Linked DNA regions of Homo sapiens: all the other regions are linked to region 3. The links come from fine-mapping of genetic effects on gene expression. A gene starts in region 3. Each other region holds a variant in brackets. All regions are shown on one strand. Distances are between the middles of the regions.

Region 1 (4,249 bases), 26 kb after region 3:
AATTATCAGGGGGACCAATCAGGCCATTTTTAACTTCATTTTGATTAACATTTTAGTAATGTAACTAAATGCACACACACACACACACACACACACACACACATACATACACTCATTTTCGCCTCACCTTTTGCAGGAAAAAAACAGAATTCCCGTGATCAATTGGCTTTCTGGGCATCGAGTGGAGATGAGCTGCTGAGAGAGGCTGGCACTGATGGACCTAGGCCTGGTTAATATCCCTCTGTTTGGGAAAGGGTTGGATTCTCCTTTTGGATTTCAGACAATATAGATCTCTAAGACTGTGGGGCTGCTATCGACAGTAAATTTCCCAAGGTGGGGGCCACCCCTCTGGCCAGCCAGGTGACCTTCCCTGGGTGAGCTTAACCCTATTCTCTCCTTTAATGCCTAGGTAAAGGAAACATTAATTCTGCATTTCAATGTAATGGAATTAAAAACATCCCAGACTGGAAGATTTTGGCTTCTCACCCACTGGCTGGGTGATTTTAAGCCACTCGCTTTATCTTAGGTGTGTTTTCTCATGTGTAGGATGAAATATTTTACAAATATGAATATGAAAATATGAGTGTTGATAATATGAATTTGAAAGTACCAATATTGTTATAAAACCATCAGCAAAAATCTCAAAATAGTAAAAACTTCAGCATACATAGATTCATCTGGAAGCCCTGCTAAAATACAGATTTCTGGGCATCGCCTCAAAGTCTTCCATTCAGGAGGTCTTAGTGCAGCAGAGAATTCGCATTTCTAGCAAGCTTCCAGATATTGCTGATGTTACTGGTCCAGGGACAAGACTTTGGTTTTGTTTTTTGTTTTGTTTTATTTTAGAGTCAGGGAGTACATGTGCAGGTTTGTCATATGTGTGTATTGCATGATGCTGAGGTTTGGTCTTTTAATGATCCTGTCACACAAGTAGTGAACATAGTACGCAATAGGTTGTTTTCTGACCCTTGCCCCACTGGCACCCTCCCCACTTTTGGAATCCCCAGTGTTTGTTTATGTGTTTATTTGTTTGTTTGTTTGTTTGTCTGTTTGTTTGTTTGTTTTTGAGATGGAGTCTCACTCTGTTGCCCAGGCTGGAGTGCAGTGGCGTGATCTTGGCTCACTACAACTTCTGCCTTCCGGGTTCAAGCAATTCTCCTGTCTCAGCCTCCCGAGTAGCTGGAACTACAGATGCGTGCCACCTCTCCCTGCTAATTTTTATATTTTTAGTAGAGATGGGGTTTCACCATGTTGGTCAGCCTGGTCTCAATCACCTAACTCCAAGTGATCCACCTGCCTTGGGCTCCCAAAGTGCTGGGATTACAGGCGTGAGCCACTGTGCCTGACCCCCCAGTGTTGATTGTTCCCGTGTTTGTGTCCATGTGTACCCAATGTTTAGCTCCCACTTATTAGTGAGAACGTTTGGTATTTGGTTGTTTCTGAATTAATTCACTTAGGATAATGGCTTCCAGCTGTATCCATATTGTGGCAAAGTCATGATCTCATCGTTTATGGCTGCATAGTATTCCATGGTGTATATGTACTACATTTTCTTTATCCAATCGACCATTGATGGGCACCTGGGTTGATTCCATGTCTTTGCTAGTGTGAATACTGCTGTAATAAACATATGAGTCTAGGTGTCTTTTGGTAGAACGATTTATTTTCATTTTGGTATATACCCAGCAATAAAATTGCTGGGTAGAATGGTAGTTCTATTTTTAGTTCTCTGAGAAATCTTCAAACTGCTTTCCACAGGGGCTGGACTCATTTGCATTCCCACCAACAGTGTATAAATGTGCAGAGACCACATTTTGAAAACCACTGGAATAAGCAGTTAAGAGAGTCCTGTATTCAACTAATTTGTAAAGTGGGATTGATAAATTGTCTTGAGTTGTAAAGAAAAGGGTACACATTGTTGCTACGTACTCCTGTAACCACCCAGCAGGTTCTCCTTGCCCACTGCCCAGAGTCTATTCATCCAGACAGGAATTGCAATAGAGAAAGAGTCGAATTCCTGCAGAGCCGGCTATACAGGAGACCAGAGTTTTATGATTACTCAAATCACTCTGAATTTGTTTGGCTGCATGTTTAGCTGCATGACTCCTAAACCATAATTTCTA[A/G]TCTTGTGGCTAATTTGTTAGTCCTACATAGTGAGTCTAGCCCCCAGGCAAGAAGGAGGCTTGTTTTGGGAAAGGGCTGTTATCATCTTTGTTTCAAAGTTAAACTAAAAACTAAGTTTCTCCCATAAAATACCTACGAATTCAACTTACAAGGGATCTGAAGGACCTCTTCAAGGAGAACTATAAACCACTGTTCAACGAAATAAAGGAGGACACAAACGGAAGAACATTCCATGCTCATGGATAGGAAGAATCAATATCATGAAAATGTCCATACTACCCAGGATAATGTATAGATTCAATGCCATCCCCATCAAGCTACCAATTACTTTCTTCACAGAATTGGAAAAAAAACTATTTTAAAGTTCATATGGAACCAAAAAAGAGAGCGCATTGCCAAGACAATCCTAAGCAAAATGAACAAAGCTGGAGGCATCATGCTACCTGACTTCAAACTATACTACAAGACTACAGCAACCAAAACAGCATGGTACTGGTACCAAAATAGAGACATAGACCAATGGAACAGAACAGAGCCCTCAGAAATAACACCACACATCTACAACCATCTGATCTTTGACAAACCTGACAAAAACAAGAAATGGGGAAAGGATTCCCTATTTAGTAAATGGTGCTGGGAAAACTGGCTAGCCATATGTAGAAAGCTGAAACTGGATCCCTTCCTTACACCTTATACAAAAATTAATTCAAGATGTATTAAAGACTTAAATGTTAGACCTAAAACCGTAAAAACCCTAGAAGAAAACTTAGGCAGTACCATTCAGGACATAGGCATGTGCAAGGACTTCATGACTAAAACACCAAAAGCAATGGCAACAAAAGCCAAAATACACAAATGGGATCTAATTAAACTAAAGAGCTTCTGCACAGCCAAAGAAACTACCATCAGAGTGAACAGGTGACCTACAGAATGGGAAAAAATTTTTGCAATCTACCCATCTGACAAAGGGCTAATATGCAGAATCTACAAAGAACTTAAACAAATTTACAAGAAAAAAACAAACAACCCCATCAAAAAGTGGGCAAAGGATATGAATAGACACTTCTCAAAAGAAGACATTTATGTAGCCAAAAGACACATGAAAAAATGCTCATCATCACTGGCCATCAGAGAAATGCAAATCAAAACCGCAATGATATACCACTTCACACCAGTTAGAATGGCGATCATTAAAAAGTGAGGAAACAACAGATGCTAGAGAGGATGTGGAGAAATAGGAACACTTTTACACTGTTGGTGGGACTGTAAACTAGTCCAACCATTGTGGAAGACAGTGTGGCGATTCCTCAAGGATCTAGAACTAGAAATACCATTTGACCCAGCGATCCCATTACTGGGTATATACCCAAAGGATTATAAATCATGCTGCTATAAAGACACATGCACATGTATGTTTATTGCAGCACTATTCACAATAGCAAAGACTTGGAACCAACCCAAATGTCCATCAATGATAGACTGGATTAAGAAAATGTGGCACATATACACCGTGGAATACTATGCAGCCATAAAAAATGATGAGTTCATGTCCTTTACAGGGACAAAAATGAAGCTGGAAACCATCATTCTGAGCAAACTATCACAAGGACAGAAAACCAAACACCGCATGTTATCACTCATAGATGGGAATTGAACAATGAGAACACTTGGACACAGGGTGGGGAACATCACATACTGGGGCCTGTCGTAGGGTGGGGGATTGGGGGAGGGATAGCATTAGAAGAAATACCTAATGTAAATGACGAGTTAATGGGTACAGCAAACCAACATGGCACATGTATACCTGTGCGACAAACCTGCACGTTGTGCACATGTAACCTAGAACTTAAATTTTTTAAAAAAAGGCCTGGCGTGGTAGCTCACACCTGTAATCCCAGCGCTTTGGGAGGCCGAGGCAGGCGGATCATGAGGCCAGGAGATCGAGACCATCCTGGCTAACATGGTGAAACCCGGTCTCTATTAAAAATACAAAAAATTAGCCAGGCGTGGTGGCGGGTGCCCATAGCCCCAGCTACTCGGGAGGCTGAGGCAGGAGAATGGTGTGAACCCGGGAGGCGGAGCTTGCAGTGAGCCGAGATCGCACCACCGCACTCCAGCCTGGGCG
Region 2 (4,228 bases), 31 kb before region 3:
ATTGGCAGGAACCTGTGAAAAATAAAAATGTAGGGCTTCTTGTTCAAAAATTATCCAGAATATCAAAACAGCAGAGAATTAAGTCAAGTAAGTACCAGGCTCTTCTGAGAATGGACCCTGTGCAACTGCACAGATCAAATGTCCGTGAAACCAACTGTGTTTAGACATATTCAGTTCAAGGAGAGTGTATTGTCAGGGAAAAACCTTCAGAGATGATTCTTCCAGCAAAGAAAAAAAAAAAAAGTGGGGAGTGGAACAAGCTTCCCCTATACCTCAGTGTGGCAGAGACCCAGGGACAGAAAACCCTGGCAGCTGGTGAAGACAGAACCTCTCAAAGCAGAATGAGAGGCAACGAGCCACAGTACATCTCCCAGATAATTAGAGACAGTGATTGGAAATAAACTGAAGCTCGGCCTGGTGATGGGTATCAGAGGAAAGCAAGAGCGCCTTAGCAACATAATTAACAAAGGCTCTAATCTAGTCTTGAGCAAGCATATTTATTAACAAGCTAAATATAGATAGATACTAGTACACAGTAATAACATCAAACATATTAATATGTATATGCTAACATATTGAAATTTATGTACATATACATGTATATCTATCTTTTAGCCATTTTCTCCTTATTGTCTTTATCCCATAGCATTTAAATACTGCCAAATATTATATATTACATGTATATACTACTATTTCATATATATTAGTATACAATACTATTTTATGTAATATATTTAATATTTTATAAAATTGTATATAAATTATCTTATACAATATATGATTGTGTATGTAGTACATGTGGCTTTTTTTTTGAGACAGAGTCTTGCTCTGTCATACAATATATGATTGTGTATGTTAATACATGTGGCTTTTTTTTTTTTTGAGACAGAGTCTCACTCTGTCATACAATATGTGATTGTGTATGTAATACATGTAGCTTTTTTTTTTTTTTTTTTGAGACAGGGTCTTGCTCTGTCACCCAGTCTGGAGTGCAAGGGCGCGATCTCAACTCACTGCAACCTCCACCTCCCAGGTTCAAGCAATTCTCCTGCCTCAACCTCCTGAGTAGCTGGGACTACAGGCACATGCTGCCATGCCTGGCTAATTTTTTGCATTTTAGTAGAGACAGAGTTTGTGTGCCCAGGCTGGTCGGGAACTCCTGAGCTCAGGCAATCTGCCTGCCTTGGCCTCCCAAAGTGCTGGGATTACAGGTGTGACCCACTGCGTCCGGCCAATACGTGTGTATTTTATACTATGGAGGGACCTCATGGGTGCACTGAAGGAAGCATTTAGACCAGTGAATTTTTTTTAACCTTTATCTTAGGTTTGGGGTACAAGTGAAGGTTTGTTAAACAGGTAAAAACGTGTCATGGGGGTTTGTGGTACATAGTATTTCATTACCTGGGTACTAAGCCCAGTACCCAATAGTTATCTTTTCTGCTCCTCTTCCTCCTCCCACCCTCCACCCACAGGTAGGCCCCAGTGTCTGTTGTTTCCTTCTCTGTTTCTTGGTTTCTCTTTTTTACAAGACACAGTTTTACTCTGTCACCCAGGCTAGAGTGCAGTGACACGATCTTGGCTCACTGCAACCACCTCCCAGGTTCAAGTGATTCTTGCACCTCAGTCTCCTGAATAGCTGGGATTACAGGCATGCACCACCAGCCTGGCTACTTGTTGTATTTTTAGTAGAGATGGGGTTTCA[C/T]ACCATGTCGGCCAAGCTGGTCTCAAACTCCTGACCTCAAGTGATTCACCCGTCTTGGCCTCCCAAAGTGCTGGGATTACAGGTGTGAACCACCATGCCAGGCCATTGTTTCCTTCTTTGTGTTCACAAGTTCTCATCATTTAGCTCCCACGTATAAGTGACAACATGCAGTAGTTGGTTTCCTGTTCTTATTTTAGTTTGCTAAGGATAATGGACTCCAGCTCCACCCATGTTCTCTCAAAAGACATGATCTCATTTTTTATGGCTGCATAGAATTCCATGGTGTATATATACCATATTTTCTTTATTTAATCTGTCATTGATGGGCATTTAGGTTATTTCCTGTCTTTGCTATTGTGAATAGTGCTGCAATGAACATTTGTGTGCATGTATCTTTATGGTAGAATTATTTTTATTTCTCTGGGTATATAAGCAGTAATAGGATTGCTGGGTCAAATGGTAGTTCTGCTTTCAGCTCTTTGAGGAATCACCATACTGCTTTCCACAATGGTTAAACTAATTTACACTCCCACCAACAGTGTACACATGTTCCTTTTTCTCCACAACCTTGCCAGCATCTGTTATTTTTTTACTTTTTCATAATAGCCATTCTGACTAGTGTGGGATAGTACCTCATTGTGGTTTTGATTTGCATTTCTTTGATGATCAGTGATATTGAACTTCTATTCATATTCTTGTTGGCTGCATGTAGGTCTTCTTTTGAGAAGTGTATGTTCATGTCCTTTGCCCACTTTTTCATGTGGTTGTTAGTTTTTCTCCTGTAAATTTGTTTAAGTTCCTTATAGATGCTGGATACTAGACCTTTGTCAGATGCATAGTTTGCAAGTATTTTCTCCCATTCTGTAGGTTGGCTATTTACTCTGTTTATAGCTTCCTTTTCTGTGCAGAAGTTCTTAAGTTTAATTAGATCTCACTTGTCAATTTTTGCTTTTAGTTGCAATGGCTTTTGGTGTCTTTGTCATGAAATCTTTGCCTGTTCTTATGCCCAGGATAGTATTGCCTAGGTTGTCTTCTAGGGTTTTGATAGTTTTGAGTTTTACATTTAAGTCTTTAATCCATCTTGAGTTGATTTTTGCATATGGTCTAAGGAAAAGGTCTAGCTTCAATCTTCTGCATATGGCTAGCCAGTTATCTCAGCACCTTTTATTTAACAGTGAGTCTTTTCCCCATTTCTTGTTTTTGTCAGCTTTGTCAAAGATCAGATGGTCATAGATGTGCAGCCTTATTTCTGGGCTCTCTATTCTGTTCCACTTGTCTATATGCCTGTTTTTATACCAGTACCGTGCTGTTTTGCTTACTGTAGCCTTTGTAGTATAGTTTGAAGCTGGGTAACATGATGCTTCCAGCTTTGTTCTTTTTTCTTATGACTGCCTTGGCTATTCAGGCTCCTTTTTGGTTCCATATAAATTTTAAAATAGTTTTTTCTAGTTCTGTGAAGAATGTCTTTGGTAGTTTGATACAGATAGCACTGAATCTGTAAATTGCTTTGGAGAGTATAGCCATTTTAATGATATTGATTCTTTTTATCCATGAGCATGGGATGTTTTTCCATTTGTTTGTGTCTTCTCTGATTTCTTTGAGCAGTGTTTTGTAATTCTCTTTATAATTTGTAATTGAACAATATTTTGCCAATTCTTTCACCTCCCTGGTTAGCTATACTCCTGTGTATTTTATTCTTTTTGTGGTAATTGTGAATGGGATTGTCTTTCTGATTTGGCTCGAGATTTGGCTGTTGTTGGTATATAGGAAAGCTCAGGATTTTTGTACATTGATTTTTGTATCCTGAGACTTTGCTGAACTTATTTATCAGCTGGAGGAGCTTTTGGGCCAGGACTATGAGGTTTTCTAGATATGGAATCATGTCATCTACAAACAGAGATATTTTGACATCCTCTCTTCCTTCTTGGATGCCCTTTATTTCTTTCTCTTTCCTGATTGCTCTGACTAGGACTTCCAAATTTACATTGAATAGGAGTGGTGAGAGAGGGCATCCTAGTCTTGTGCTGGTTTTCCAGGGGAATGCTTCCAGCTTTTGCCCATTCAGTATAATGTTGGCTGTTGGTCTGTCACAGATAACTCATTATTTTGAGGTATGTTCTTTCACTACCTAGTTTACTGAGAGTTTTTAACATGAAGGAGTGTTGAATTTTATCAAAATCCTTTTCTACATCTATTGACATAATCATGTGGTTTTTGTCTTTAGTTCTGTTTATGTGATGAATCACATGTATTAATTTGCATATGTTGAACCAGACTTGCATCCTGGAGATGAAGCCTACTTGATCGTGGTGGATAAGCTTTTTGATGTGCTGCTGGATTTGATTTGCCAGTATTTTATTGAGGATTTTTGCATCCGTGTTCATTAAGGATATTGGCCTGAAGTTTTCTTTTTTTGTTGTGTCTCTTCCAGTTTTTGGTATGAACATCATGCTGGCCTCATAGAATGAGTTGGGGAGGAGTCCCTCCTCCTCGATTTTTTAGAATGGTTTCTGTAGGAACGGTACC
Region 3 (4,249 bases):
ACTCTTCAAAAAAATGCAATAACTTTATAAACAGCCACATCCTGATTCTTACGGTTGAAAGCTCTCCATTCTCTGCTGAATATTCATCCGTTGAGAGGGACACTAGCCTAGAAGCTCAGCACTTTCTGAAAAGAGAAGCAGCAGGAATAGAAGATGTGTGGAGAGGAAAGAAAGTCAAAGGCAGGCTCCTGCAATGCAAAGGTGCCAGGAACAACGGTGCAATCCCAGGCTGTGTAACACAGGATGGAGGAGGGAGATCTCACTTTTATTGTAAATAGCAGAATTCTTTAAAGGTAGCTACATTAGCAATCAGATCTCATAGATGCTGGAAACACAAACACCTCCTTTCTCATTAAGGGTAGGGGGATCCAGCATAATTTCTCTGGACCAGGAAGATGGAGGAGTCTTACTTCTCTTGCCTTCCAACTGCATCCCCCACTCAATCCTAGATTGCACAAGGAAGTCAACACTACCTCCCCCAACAAGCTCCAAATCCCTCTCTTCACAGCATTGTCAATTGAATCTCTTCATCCAATCTTGGAAACAGTCTGGAAAAAGAAGCAGAGGAGAGAAGAAAGGGGAAAAGTTCAAAAGTACTTTAAACTCTGCCAAAAAAAATCAATTAGTACCAATATACACAGAGAAATGAATGACAGAAGTCATCGCAGCAAGGTATTTCCTCATGACTCCTTCAACTGGCCAGGGCCAAACCAAGGTGTGCAAATAATCTGAGCAACTGTACACTTTGGCACACCTTTGCTATGTATACATACCTTCAATATGTATTTACAGAAGCTGGAAATTGCACAGGGCAGGACCAGGAAAGAACGGGCAGAAATGTTCAACTGCATGGCCAATGTCCTGAGCTTTAGCCCCAGAGTTGTGTGTCCTACTCTGAAGCCCTACAAGTCATAGGACCCATTCACCCCAGAGCCAGTGCAGCCTATTTCTTTGAGATCTCAGTCCCATCTCTCTAATGGTATCAAAGAACCCTCCATTTACATTTAGTGCTCTCTTTGAAAGGAGCCATGATAGACTTTAATCCAAATTTACAAAAAGAAAAACTGGATTCCAAAGAACGATATAATTAGCATAAATACTGGGACTACACACTGCCACATAATAAAACAGAAAGCATCAAAATATATAATTGTGTATAGCACCTATACACTAGCATAGGTCAAACAGCTGAATGATTAAAGGAGTTTTGTTTTGTTTTGTTTTAATCAGTCAACTAGGAACTTCTTAATGCAGTCACTTTGGCATGATACAAACAAAATCTTTCAAACTACAACACATCTTAGAAACAGCAAATACTACTGCTGTTCACGTAGCAAGGAAGGTTACAAGTAAATCTCCCAATATCTCAGGTGTAAAGAAGTGTTCTAACAAGGTCCATTTGTATTAAATCAAATCACCAGACTAAGGCATCTATTTTGCACCACTTACTCAGAGCAACAGACAAAAAGACAGGCCTTTGGGTTTATTTATATAAACATTCTTCCACAGGTAGTCACAGAGGAGGAAGGAGTACAATGTAATTTGATGGTGGATGAATTTGCACAAAAAGGAGACTAAAAAAGAAAGATTATTGTGACCCAACACTCACTCTTTACTTTTTAAAGTTGTGGGGAAAAGAAATGGCAAAGCTTTCTATTTCTGTAAGCTTTTGTTGTAAAGAATTGAATAAAAAATAGCAATACCTAATCATCTCTAAATTACTTCAACTAAAAACACCACTAAAGACCTTATAATCTTTTTTTAAAAAATTCATTCTCATAATTTCTTCCTTGGCCCTGAAAACGATGGTTTAAAAATAGCTTGATTTGCATCTTATTCTTTTACTGCCTTTCTACAAATACATTTTGAAATGCTTGCTTACGGAAAAGCTGTTGCCTGCTTAGCTTTCATCATGTATGAGATCACACTATTTCGCTCACCTGGAACTGTCGTGTTCTCTGTTCCCAGCAACGGTCCGATAAGGAGCATCCTTGCTAAATGATATGTTTAAAGTATGTATAGCTACGTGTATTTTCAAATGCATAACCAATTTCTTAAAAGAGATGGTAACTCATGCCAGAAGCAAGGAAAAGATTGAAAGGCAGGCCTGGAAACAGAGCTGGCCCAGTAGCAGCTCCAAATATGTCAAAATGCTAGTGTTATTTAAGACACCGATACAATATCCCTGATGATGAAACAGGAAACGTTCCCTTGCGCCACCCGCAGGGTGTGCAACAGGAGGAGTGGCTCGCTTCTTCCGTGCCCCACTGCTCAAACCTCTAGGGGAGCATGCGGACGGCTGGGTTGTGGGGCTCCAACCCAAGAGCAGTGTCTAGGGGTGAATGTTTACAGCTGAAGCCCCAGTGGGCACACGTGTGTTACAGGGTGCTCTTTTAGTTTTGCCATCTGTAGGCGACTTGTGTTAGTCAGCTCAATTAGACCCCCTGGCTTATCTCAAGGACAGAGGACTTTCTGTATCCCAGGGTCCTTGCCTTGGTGTACCGGAAGAATCAGATCACACGTGGGCTTGGAGAATGAGTTCAAGGTTTTATTGAGAGGAAGTAGCTGTGAGCAGACAGGGGAGACAGAAGGGAGATGGAGTGGGAAGGTGTAGTTTCCTGGAGTCAGGCCACCTAGCGGCCTGGCTCTCCTCCAACCACGCAGCCAAACTCCATGTCCTTCCGCCAGTCGATGGCCTGCCAGGGTCTGCCTGTCGGCGTGCTCTTGTTGACGTCCTCTGGACGTCCAGCCGCTTGTGTGAGTGCCCACTAGTGTTTCGGGGTTTTTATAGGCACAGGATGGGGGCGTGGTGGGCCAGGGTGGTCTTGGGAAATGCAACATTTGGGCGCAAAGGCAGGAGTGCCTGCCCTTACCTAGGTCTGTGGGCACAGGCACCGGGGTGAAGCCCTCGCCAGAGACCTGCTTTCTCCTCCCAGCACTTCCCTGCCCCCCTCCCTTATCAATAACATCTGCATTTGTAGCTGGGTAACCAGGGTATTCTTCATACAGCTGCAAGTATCTGGCTAATATATTGATAGGGTTTGGATCTGTGTCCAGGCCCAAATCTCACGTTGAATTGTAATCCCAGTGTTGGGGGTAGGGCCTGGTGAGAGGTGATTGGATCATGGAGGAGGATTTCTCATGAATGGTTTAGGACCATCCCTTTGGTGCTGACGGCAAGACAGTGAGTGAATTCTCAAGAGAGAGTTCTGGTTGTTTAAGAGTGTGTGGCACCTTGCTCGCTCTCTCTTTCTTGCTCCTGCTTCAGTCACATGAGGTGCCTGCTCTCATTTCACCTTCCACCATGAGTCAAAGTTCCCTGAAGCCTCCACAGAAGTAGACCCAATATGTTTCCTGTACAGCCTGCAGAACCGTGAGCCAATTAAAGCTCCTTTCTTATAAATTACACAGTCTCAGGTATTTCTTTATAGCAATGCCAGAACAGCCTAATACATACATTATGTCTTCAAGTGGGGGTGAAGACATGCTGAACATTTACTTCTTGAAATATCCACTATATGATAGTCAGGGTGTTGTATGTTTAAAGCATGTATGTGTATAGCTTACGTTATTAAAAATTATTGTTTTAGAATAGAAAAAGGAAGAGTGATAAAATATTAGGCTGAACCATATGAAATTGCTGATATTTTATAACTTTTAGTCAACAAAATTCTCAAATGAGAGCTTTGGGTCCAATAAGTTTGCTTTGCCCCAGGCAACTTGCCCCACTAGTGTAATTCGGGGTCAAGCCATGTGCAAGACTATCAGACAGTTTGCACATCCAAGCATGACCACTCCATGCTCTATTATGCTAAGACAGTCTCTGTAACTTTTCTGCTTTGAGTTAAGTTACATAAGTCCTCTTTCTGTTACCCAACATTTGTGGGTGCCAGGTCCCTGAAAGGAAGCTATAGGAGCAGGTAAAAATTCTTTCCATATTTATTTGTGTGGAATTTTTACTTTTTGACTGTATACCAGATGTAAGGAAGTGTTCTTGCTCTAGGGCCATCTGTCATTGCAGAGGTAGGATAGATTCACATAATGATAGAGTAGAAAAAAATAAGTAAAGTGACCCAGGTTTAAATCCTGTCACCTGCTGTTATTGGTTGTGTTTCACTTCTTGACCTACAGAATCCTTGTCTATAAAACTGAACTGGGGACCGTGCCTAGTCATGTAAGTTCATTGTAAAATTCAAACAAAACAAAGTCTGTCAAGGATTTTGAAATGCCAAGATACAACCATGTGATC

The links. PIP is the estimated chance that this variant, and not a neighbour inherited with it, causes the effect.
Region 1: its variant is the best candidate, but not a certain one, in a credible set for the expression of LINC02218 in whole blood (TOPMed, PIP 0.68).
Region 2: its variant is the best candidate, but not a certain one, in a credible set for the expression of LINC02218 in whole blood (TOPMed, PIP 0.76).

Annotation. Positions count from the first base shown.
Region 1 is chr5:17,415,984-17,420,232 of GRCh38, reverse strand. All of the region lies in intron 1 of LINC02217 (long intergenic non-protein coding RNA 2217), which reads right to left. Among named protein-coding and RNA genes, the nearest start is that of LINC02217, 14 kb to the right of the region's middle. RefSeq lists an enhancer at 3,692-4,249. The variant A/G (reference allele first, on the strand shown) is at 2,124.
Region 2 is chr5:17,473,399-17,477,626 of GRCh38, reverse strand. It overlaps LINC02218 (long intergenic non-protein coding RNA 2218), which reads right to left. Exons shown (of 3, transcript NR_134270.1): 2 at 1-12. Among named protein-coding and RNA genes, the nearest start is that of H3Y2, 17 kb to the left of the region's middle. The variant C/T (reference allele first, on the strand shown) is at 1,703.
Region 3 is chr5:17,441,926-17,446,174 of GRCh38, reverse strand. It overlaps LINC02218 (long intergenic non-protein coding RNA 2218), which reads right to left and starts at 2,165. Exons shown (of 3, transcript NR_134270.1): 1 at 1,941-2,165.